2 separate regions of the Homo sapiens genome follow, and region 1 is linked to region 2. Evidence: fine-mapped expression QTL. A gene starts in region 2. The other region holds a variant in brackets. All regions are shown on one strand. Distances are between the middles of the regions.

Region 1 (5,377 bases), 150 kb before region 2:
TGTTGGGTCTCATTTTTTTTTTTTTTTTTTGAGATGGAGTCTCATTCTGTCACCCGGGCTGGATTGCAGTGGCAGGATCTCGGCTCATTGCAAGCTCCACCTCCCGGGTTCATGCCATTCTTCTGCCTCCCAAGTAGCTGGGACTACAGGCACCCACCACCACACTCAGCTATTTTTTTGCATTTTTAGTAGAGATGGGGTTTCACCATGTTAGCTAGGATGGTCTTGATCTCCTGACTTCGTGATTCGTCGGCCTTGGCCTCCCAAAGTGCTGGGATTACAGGTGTGAGCCACCGCACCCAGCCAGTTGGGTCTCATTTTTAAAACTCCAGTTTGACAGTCTGTCTTTTAAATGTCATATATAACTGATAATTAATACAGTCAGATTAATGGTTGCCATCTTTGTAAGGTTGTTGGATTTGTTCTGGTTTTTTCCCCCTCTTTTTCAGAATCTTCTAGTTTCAACTGAACATTTTACATGATTCCATTTAATCTCCTCTACTGACTTATTATTTATACTTCTTTTTTAATATATAGTTTAGTGCCCAGGGTTCATAGTATACATCTTAAACTAATCTAAATTTACCCTCGAATAATACCATACTGCTCCATGTGTCGTGCGGGTACCTCACAACAGAGTATTTGTCAATGCCCTTCTCATTTCTTGGGATGCTGTTTTCGTTTTTCACTTGAACACATGCTCTAATCACCAAAGCCAGCATCACTATTTTTGCTTTTAATGGATAGTATCTTTTAGATAAATTATGAGTAAGAAAAACAAAATATTTTATTTCACTTCTAGTTATTCTTTTTTGCTGTACTTTTTTTCTTTATGTAGATCCAAATTTCTGACCTGTAACATTTTCCTTCTGTTTGAAGAATTTCCTTGCTATTTCTTATAGACTTCAGACCTGCTGGCAATGAATTCCATCAGCTGTTTATCTGAGATAGTTTCTATTTTATCCTTGACTTTTGAGGGATATTCTTACTGAATATGCAATTCTAACTTGCCAGTATTTTTTCTTTATTTGTTTCTTCAGATCTTTAAAGATTACAGTCAACTGCATTCTTAGTTGCACAGTCTCTTTTTTCTTTTCTTTTTTTTTTTTGACGGAGTCTTGCTCTGTCACCCAAGCTGGAGTGCAGGGGCATGATCTCAGCTCACTGCAACCTCCGACTCCTATGTTCAAGCAATTCTCCTGTCTCAGTCTCCCGAGTAGCTCAGATTACAGAGTTGCACAGTTTCTGATGAGAAGTCTGCAGTAGTTTTAATCCTTGTTTCTCTAAAGAGAATGTCCTCATTCTTTTCAGATGTATTCAAGATTTTCTCTTTGGTTTCAATTTTCTATGGTTTAAACAGGATATATCTCAGTTACTTTTGGTTGTTGTTGGTTTGTTTTTGTTTTTTGTTCTAATTCTGCTTGATGTTTTCTAAGATTCTTAAGACAGTGGCTTGGTGTCTATGACTAATATTGGAATATTCTTGGCCATGATTTTAAAAAATATTTCTTGTTTCTTCTTCTGGTATTCCAATTTTCATATGTTACACTAGTGGTTGCCAACCTTTTTGGCACCAGGGACCAATTTCATGGAAAACAATTTTTCCACGGATCAGTGCAGAGGGGATGGTTTCGGGATGAAACTGTTCCATCTCAGGTCATCAGGCATTAGATTCTCATAAGGAGCATGCAACCTAGATTCCACACATGTGCAGTTCATAATACGGTTTGCATTCCTATGAGAATCTAATGCCACCAGTGATCTGACAGGAGGCAGAGCTCAGGTGGTAATGCTTGCTCACCAGCCACTCACCTCCTGCTGTGTGGCCCAGTTTCTAACAGGCCATGGACCAGTACTGGTCTGTGGCCTGGAGGTTGGAGACCCCTGTGTTACACTATTTTGTATTGTTCCACATTCCTGGATTTCCTGTCCTGCTCTGTTTTATTTTCCATCCTTTTTTTCTTTGTGTTTCAGTTTGGGTCATTTCCTTTCACCTATCCTCAAGGTCACTGATTCTTCAGCCATGTCAAATCTACATATGAGCCCAATAAAAAATTATTCATTTCTTTGTCTGTTTTGTATTACTGGCATTTCTTTTCATCTTTCTGCTGACATCCATTTTCTTATGTGTTGTCTACCTCTTCCATCAACGTCTTTCACATATTGATCATAATTGTTTTAAATTACATGTCTGATAATTCCAACATCTGAGTCATATTTGAGTTTGGTTCTGATGATTATTTTGTCTCATCAGTGTTCTCTTGACTTTTGGCCTGCCTTGTAATATTATGTTGAAATATAGACATATGGTATAGAGCAGAAGATACTGAGTTAAATAAGACTTTCAAGTGAGAATTGATGTTAATTTGGCCAGGAGTTGAAGTGTATTCAATGTTTGGTGTAGATTTAGGTGTCAGAAACTTCTAATGTCCTTATTTTTGCCTCTTCTCTTGGCATTTGGATTCCCTTATATATGGCACCTAAGTCAGAGTATATGTCTTGTGGTTTTTCAAGCTCAACTCATGGTTATTATACTGGAAGCTCATTCACATGGTGGTAGGGCATAGGGAAGGACATGTTCTCTGATCTGATCAAGTATCATTCTTTGGAGTGCATAGTTGGCCTGGGGTGCACTCCAGAAAAGGGTATGACTTTCAAATCTTTCTGTCCCTTCCCAGGGTAGAGTTTTCCCCCAAAAAAAGGATGCCACTGCTTCAGATACTAATACAGGGGAAGAAATGAGACCCAGCAGACACATCAGCACATGGGTTTGGGACCAAATGGCAAAAGAGTTATTTAAAAATATGAATAAGCAGAGTGTAAACTTAGAAATTCAGTATTTCAGCAAATCTGAAATAATACATTTTGCAAATGGCCACTTAACAAGAGAGAATGCCAAATTGGTGTTTACCATGTGCTAAGCCAACCAACTGAAACCTTCAAAGTGCAATGCACTTATGATGTGATAAGTTATTTAC[T/G]TAAGTAGCAAAAGTAAATAGATAAGCTTTCCCAACACTTTGTTTTTAGAATAACAAGTGAGATGCATGTGGAAGATTAGCAAATGCTTTAAGGTTGCTCTCTTTTGTTGAGACAGTTTCTATTCCTTTCTTGTACACATACAAAACATCAGGCTGCAGATATTTGATGGAATATGCTAACTTAGCTTATTTTTTAACACTCTTAAAATATTTAATGCTATCATTTAGCATTATCAACATAATGCTGTTTACTTTGCCCACTGAAGATTCACAAGATTCTTAGCCCTTTTATCTCCATCAGGTAATGTGTTTATCATCATTGCTTTGTATGCCAACGGGCACCTGAGAGGTTATAATAGCATCTCAGTCAAATTGCCTTTTACCTTTTACTGAAATAATGCCATGAACTTATAAGAACTGACAGAAGGCATTTTAGGTCAAAGAGATTTTGTTAATTTGATATATTGATTTGAATAAAGTATTTAGGAAAACAATTGTTCCGTCATTATTCATTTTCCTATGAACCTATTAATACAAATACGTTATGTGTATAGTTTTCTTTCATCCTTGGAAATACAGCTGTGGCAGACTATATAGTCCCAAAATAGCAGCTGCAATTTTTCCCATCCCTTATAATCTTCCAGAGCCTTGACATCTATGTCTCCTCCTATGAATGCCTTGACCAGTACAGTCCAGTACAAGTGATGCTGCCTAGCTTTGAAGGTTGGATCATAACCAGATCTTGTGCTCCACCTTGATGTAGGACGTTTGCTTGAGGAAGCCAGCTGCCGTGTTGTGAGGAAGCTCAAATTAGCCTATGTGCAGAAACCACATGGAAAGGCAATGAGATGGGCCTCCTATGGATGGCTTGTTTAAAGTCCCTGCAAACAGCCAGCACTGATGACCAAATGTGGGAGTAAAGACACCTCCAGATGTTTCCTCCTAGCTGTCAGGTCACCCCCCAGCCTTGGGTCTTCCTAGCTGAGGTCCCAGACATCATGGTGCAGAGACAAACCATCCTCATGCTGCTTCTTGAACTCCCAACCAAAGAAATCATGAGCATAATGAAAAAGTTGTTTATGCCACCATGTATGGGTAGCAGCAATAAATAGATCAGTGTTGTAAATACAATTTTGAGGTTTATCAGAAAACAGGGATCTGGAGTTGTGTATAAAATACTTTCCTTTAAAACTGATAAGAATCACATAGATTGTGGCTTGAAGGTTGCAGGAACTGACACAAAGTTGTCCTGAAGAAGAATTTACCTTCTCCTGTAGGGTCTTAGGGAAGCTCTCCAGGGTGGCCAGGATTTTGAACCTCTTTAGCTGAGTCCATATTTAAACTCCCACGGCCTCAGTTTCCTCATGTGCAGAACTCCACAACATGCCTTGCATCATGCAGGGTCTGAACTTGGAAGCCTCTGCATCACCCTTTCTCTCCCTCAATGCCACTCAAATGGAAGATACAGAACCCTGATTTTGCACATGAAAGTTAGGCTGGGTCATGCCACATGGGGTCTGGGATACAGTATGTTCTGGTCACTAAAAGATGACTTTCCTTTAATGGCTGGAGCTTTGTTGTCTAATAACATCATGAAGATAATGTAGTCAGTCTGGGCTATGCTATTATATAGTGGCAACACTACATTTATCTTAATTATAAACATTAAAAATAAATACAATGTATAGCAAGGTTCTTGAATTATGTGTGTGCATGCACTTGCAAATGCATGCTCTTGTTTATGTCACATAAATACCAGCTCCCCTGAGAATCATCTACGAACAGGAACATGAGGATGGCAGACTTGTCTCTCTTATCACTTTGCAAATATTGAGAAGTGAAACAAGACTGAAGTAGTGTTGTACAAGTGATTGGCTACCCTCCAGCTCCTTTCATAACAGCAACATTTAAAGAGAACAGACTTGATGATGACAATGACCAGTGGGCCCAGGAGGAATGGCCCTGGGTCCCCACTCTTCAGAAAAGCTGCAGTGAAGGCCTTAGGAGCTTATGTGGACACACTGCGCAGCCAGTCCAGATCCTTGTTATGCACCCGATTAAAGGATCCTTGAGGTGTAACACTAGTCAAGTTTGGCTGAGGGCTGAGGGTTCCACTAAGTCAGACACACAGGCTTAACATAGGCATTTTCATTTTTCCAGCATTTAAAACAATGAGATAGACTCAAGACCACAGCTTTTCTTTAACCCTTTTGGCAGTTTTAAATTCCAGGAGGCTTCAACACTCCTGCCCTGCAAAAGAGACTGTAAACCTCAGTCTTCTCATATAAGAGCAGGAGGTTCTACAGAGGCCATACCTGGAAGAAAACAGGTGCGTTTTGTCTCCCTCTATATTATTTGATGATATTTTTTGCTGTTGTTGCAATTAAGGAAATACAAGC
Region 2 (5,377 bases):
TATATACAGGAAAGCACAGAGGTGTGCAGAATGGGAGGGGGCTGGTGGAGGGAGGGCCTCCCCTCCCACTGCCTCCAGTGCCTCCCTGCGTGCCATGCCTCTCCAGACAGTAGAAGTCACAGTGAATATCACATCTCAGCAAGCACAGAGCCTTTTCAGAGGGCAGAGCAGGTGTGACCTGGAGGATGACCAAACATTTTCTAATTAGACAATGAAATGTTCAGTACTCTCCATGAACCTCAGAATAGCACCGACTAGTGCCTCAGATAGAAATCTTACATAAGAAAACAACTTTCTATTCTCTGATAATAGTAATAACTCCCTAGAAAATACGATTTAAAATTAATGAGAAAAATAACTCAAGTCTGGTAGAGCACTTTTAATTTATCTCAATGCTAAATGTGGAAGAAATTAATTGCTTATAATTTTTGAACTGAGTTTTAAAGTTTTTATCAAAAAAAATTCTCTTGCCTATCATGGCTCAACCAGAATCGTGTTCACGCCCTTCATGAATTAGAATGAGTCTGTTCCTATTGCTAACATATCTGTCTTCCCAGGATCCGGACTTGTCTTTCCTTCTTCAATATCTCACCCCTGTACGCCTCAAGTAAAGTTGGCAGGTTTTCCTTTTCTACCCTAAAATGGGAATGGAGGGGGCCTTCATTTTTATTTTAATATCACCTATACTCTAATGGGGTTATTAAAAACTGACATTTCTGATAGGTGAACATAAAATGAAATGTCATCAGCTGGAGATACAGAGGGATGTGTTTAGAGGTGAAGTGAGTTTGGAATGGTTTTTTTATTTTTTTGAAGTTTACATCAAAGTGATTTTGTATTTTTACTGAATTGGTTTATTTTATCAGATATTAACAAATTATAATTGTGTATGTTTATGGGGTACAAAATGATGCTGTGATATGCGTATACAATGTGTCATGACTGAATGGAGCTAATTAACCTACTATCCAATACTTAGCATTTTGGAATGAGTTTTGAAATACTTCATCAAACAAGGCTTCCAAAACTCTGTGGCCTCCAAAACTCTACCAAAGGTAACTGCAGGTGGTGACTGGGTGGGGGGTACACAAAGCTTCAGTGCTATTCTCTGTCTGTCACTGTGTACAACTGAAATTTTCCATAATAAAAAAGTTTAAAAATAGGTTTCTCCATCTTTTCTTTCCTTTTTTTTTTTTTTTTTAACAAGGCCCTCTTGATTATGAGGATTCCGTTTTCAGGCAGGAAATGGGGACAGGGTGAGAGAGGGCGCCGATCAGCTACTGTCAGGCTTGCTCCTTGCAAAGGGGCGGGCGGTGGAGAGAGAGGGGAGGGAGGAATTAAGGGGATCGCGCTTCCTCAGGGCCCACAGGCCTCATACCTGTGGTGTGGACCTCCAAAAGAACGGGCCACACCACCGCCAAACACAGAGCACGCAATTCAACTAAAAATTCGACTTCAGTTTCTTCCTGTCCGCGCCAGAACGGACATCAGACTGCCCCCCGCCCGCCTCCTAGCAGCTCCTTTTCACTTCGGCTGCTGCCAGGATTTCGCGACCTAGACCCCTCTTTGAAGACCACTTCCGATCCCCGACGCGGCAGCCCTTGAGGTCGCAGCCTAGCACGGAGAAGTTGGCCGGCTCTGGGGGCTATGAGGCTGCTCACCCCACAGGCGCAGGTCTACGCAGCACACACACCACCTCCTTCTTTGGACTCAGACCAAACACGCTGGGCTGTAGGAGGGAGACGGACAGATACACGGACTCGCGCGCGCACGCCTCACCAACTGATTCCAACCAGAAAACGGAGCCACTGTGTAACGCCCAGCCCCCCTCCCCTCGACACCCCCAATCAGCCAAGCCTTCGGCCGGTGTCTGCTGCACTAAACACCAGGACGTGGCCAGGGAAGGCGCAGGCATCGGTCCGAGCCAGGAGCGCCGCGGCGCCAGCGCATCTGACGTCGCAGGAGGACTGTGCGCACCTGAAGTCTGGGTGCCAAGCGCCCAAGCCTCTGCGTGCAACGAAACCCCCAAAGGAAAACAGGACTACCAGAAGACCCCTTCCTCTCGTCTTTCAGAAACGCCAAGCGGCCCCTCTGGCCGCCTCCTCAAAGCTCGGCTGCCAGAGCCACTCTAGTAGGGTCTTGCAAAAAGCGCATAGGGACAAAGCCCCTTCCCTAAGAAAAGTGCCCAACTCATCCAGTGAGCCATTCCTTCCTCCTCACTGCCCAGAGAGTGCACATGAAGAGGCAGAAATCACGACTAGGAAAAAGCGAGATTCAAATTGGAACCAAAAAAGCGTATGTGCTCGCTCCCATCTCGGCGCCAGGGCTGTGGCTCCCAGGGCTGCAGGCTGTCGCGGCTGCCAGGGGCCAGACAGCTTTTGAAGGCAGGTCTTGTCCTGGCTAGAGGAAAGAGGCTCCAGGAGTCTCTGCTTCCGCCACGGTCGCCCGTCGGGATTCCCCATCCCAAGCGCGCTTGCACCTTGCCTGCCGCTCCGCTCGGAGAATTAGTCTGTTTCCCTTCCTACTCCCAAACAGACCTAGGTCCCCAGCTCCGTGGCCGCCCGGCTCACCAGCCCTGGCTGGTCTCCTTCGGGTCACTCCGAGGGGCAGCCCGAACCCGCAGAGCCTTGGCCCGCCGCGCGCCCTCATGGCCCTGCTGGGCAGCCTGGCTCCGCTACGCTCTCAGTTCTCGGTCTCACCAGCTCCCATCGAATTCGCACAGCAGCCCCTTCGCGTCTCCCGGGGTGGCAAGGCACCAAGGTGCAGCCCAGGCCAGCATCGACCCCTTCCTGGGCATTTTCTCTGCCGGCTCAGCTCCCCCTCCCGCCCTGCGACCCCGTGTCTCCCAAGTCTCGTCGCGGCGACCACCCGGACTTACCGCGGGCGCCACGCCGCCGCCGGGTCTGCGCGCTCCGAGGCGGAGCCAGGACTAGGACACCCGCCAGCGCAGGGCAGCCTCCAGCTCCCGCCGCCAGCTCGCGGCCCCTGCCGCGACCCCGCCCACTGCGGGCCCCTCCGCCCGCCCCCGCGGCCGGGAGGTCTGGACTTACCTCCGGGACAAGGTGACCCGGCAAGTGCGCCCAAGCGGCCGCCCGCGACTCTCCCGAGCGAGCGAGCGTGCGGGGCGGTGCGGCGCCCGCCTCTGCTCCTCCGCTGCCAGGCTCTCTCCTCCTCTGCCCTCCCCTCAGCGCCGCTCTGCTCCCCACGCCTCTCCCCGCCCTGCGCTCTCCGCCTGCGCCCCCGGCTGCCCCGAGCGCCGGGCGCGGGGCAGCGGCGGCAGCCCGAGCGGCGGGGAGTCGGGAGCTGCGGCGCCGGGGCGGAGCCCAACCCTCTCGGCCCCCGGGAGAGGAAGGGGTGCGGGGAGACTCTCGTCGCGCTCGCCTGGCCGGCAGGCTGGGCGAGGGGCGCCCTGGGGCGAGCCGCTCCTCTTCGCTTGCCGAGCCTGCCGACGCGCGTGCTGGAGGCAGCGGGCGCGGGCCCCGGGGGAGGAGGGCAGGGAAGAGAAGGAGGGCGCAGCCCGCGCGAAGGTGGCCACCAACTTTGGCCCAGACCAGGGAGGCCCTAGCGGGGGATCGCGTCCAGATGGTGGCCCGCGGCCAGTGTCTGACAATGTGAGGGCCACAGAGGCTGGGGGCGGGGGATAGCTGCGGGGGACTAGGAGGACAGGAATTTGCTGCCCGACTAGAGGAAGGGATGGCTCCCCTCGGTCCTAAAGGCCTCCCCAGGCTGCGGTTCGGTTTTGAGGTTAAAAATGACCCAATTTATGGATCCGGCGAATGTTCAAGTCCTGACCAGCTAAGCCCTGGAGGAGCAAGCGGGCGCGGAGTTCAGACTCCAGAGACCCCCTCAGCCCTGAGCCAGCCTGTTGTTGGCCCATGGCGGGCCCGCCCCAGTTGGAATTGGAAGGAAACTAGGGCGGTGGTAAGACAGTCTGCGTTCTAGGAGCGGAGGAGGTGGTGTTTGCAGTGTAGATTTCATAGAGAATCAACTCTGAAAAAAAGATTTACCAGAAAGGGGGTCAAAAGTTATTTAGAAAAGCATCTGTGCGCCCCCGTTTCAACACTAGGCAGAGGCCCCAGTCCTGCCACCCGCAGGCTGGTACACTGGTGGTCAGAGAAGGTTAAGCTCCAGAGTTCCATGGCTCCCAACCTTCCTAGAGCCCTCCCTCCTGCCTGGTAACCCACCATTGCGCTGCGTCTTGCCCAGGTGTCCTGGTGGGCAGGGGCAGGAGTTAAAGGTGGTGCCAGGAACAAGAGGTCCTTCCTATATTCCTTTCAGGGGACGTGGCTTCTAGGGAGCCTCCGCAGCCCAAAGAGAATGCTGAAATGCAGAGTGCCAGAAGGAGGCATTTGAAGGAGGCGCGGATGAGTGGAACCAGTACTATCACCTGAATTCCATCCCCGTCTTCATGTCTGCAGCCCCGCGAGACACACCTGATGTTTCTTCCTTTAGGTCCCCAGAGCTGCAAGGCTGTGGTCTGGAACACTCAGAAACGGGCACTGTTCATTTCTCCCATCTAGCAGAACTTCTCAACTTGGAAGAACATGCCACCACACTTTAATAAAGCAGCTTACCTTTCCGGAGTCCTTTCCTGAATAAAGCAGTTTCCCATCTAAGCCATTAGGTTGAGCAGATACTATTAGACCCATTTGAGGTGGAGAGTCATTGATCCCATTTATCAAATGAAGAAATTGAAGTTTAAAAAGGGTAATTGAGATTGTGTAGCCACCCAATGTGCAGGAGTAGCCTGAAGCTCGGGTTCCCTGCCTCTAAGTCACTGCTCTTTCACTTGCCCAGCCTCTGGATTGACTTTTGAGGCAGATTTTGTTTTGACGAGAGAACACCTGCCTGGGCTGCAGCCAGGACTCGCCTTTGTCTCCTGGGTGCTGTTTGAATTTAATCGCGCCACTGCATTCCAGCCTGGGCGACAGAGTGAGACTCCGTCTCAAAAAAAAAAAAAAAAAAGAAAGAAACAGAAGGTGGACTCTTCCCCCATGACACACACACACACACACACACACACACACACACATCTTTCTGTAATTCAAAGGGGCCTTACACTTCATTTCAAAAGAAACTCACAGGGCCAGGACGTGTATGTAAAGAAACAGATGTCACCCACTCCTGGCAGATGCAGCAGCTCATTAAGGGCTCCTGGTGGGAAGCTCAGTTGCCCAGCACACGATGGGCAGTTTCTCTTACCTGTGATTCCCTTGTTGTGGCTTGAAATATTATCTGGTATGCTGTGATATAGCATTGAAATAAAGACTTTCAAGAAAGTCAGTGAGGAGCTGTCACATATTAGGCAATGGGGCACAGTAGAAATTGCCAAGTCTCTTGGAAACTGGGGTAACCTTCTCAACAATGCTTATCTCTC

Alleles and levels. Positions count from the first base shown, and alleles are read on the strand shown. Sizes are in standard deviations (SD) of each study's normalised expression.
For the expression in pancreatic islets of the gene that starts at base 3,175 in region 2, allele G in region 1 goes with a lower level than allele T (large effect, 1.0 SD a copy in PISA).

What was found. PIP is the estimated chance that this variant, and not a neighbour inherited with it, causes the effect.
Region 1: its variant is fine-mapped to the expression of SYNDIG1 in pancreatic islets (PISA, PIP 0.95).

Annotation. Positions count from the first base shown.
Region 1 is chr20:24,618,909-24,624,285 of GRCh38, reverse strand. All of the region lies in intron 3 of SYNDIG1 (synapse differentiation inducing 1), which reads right to left. Among named protein-coding and RNA genes, the nearest start is that of SYNDIG1, 150 kb to the right of the region's middle. The variant T/G (reference allele first, on the strand shown) is at 2,979.
Region 2 is chr20:24,467,427-24,472,803 of GRCh38, reverse strand. SYNDIG1 (synapse differentiation inducing 1) reads right to left here and starts at 3,175. Exons shown (of 4, transcript NM_024893.3): 1 at 3,051-3,175.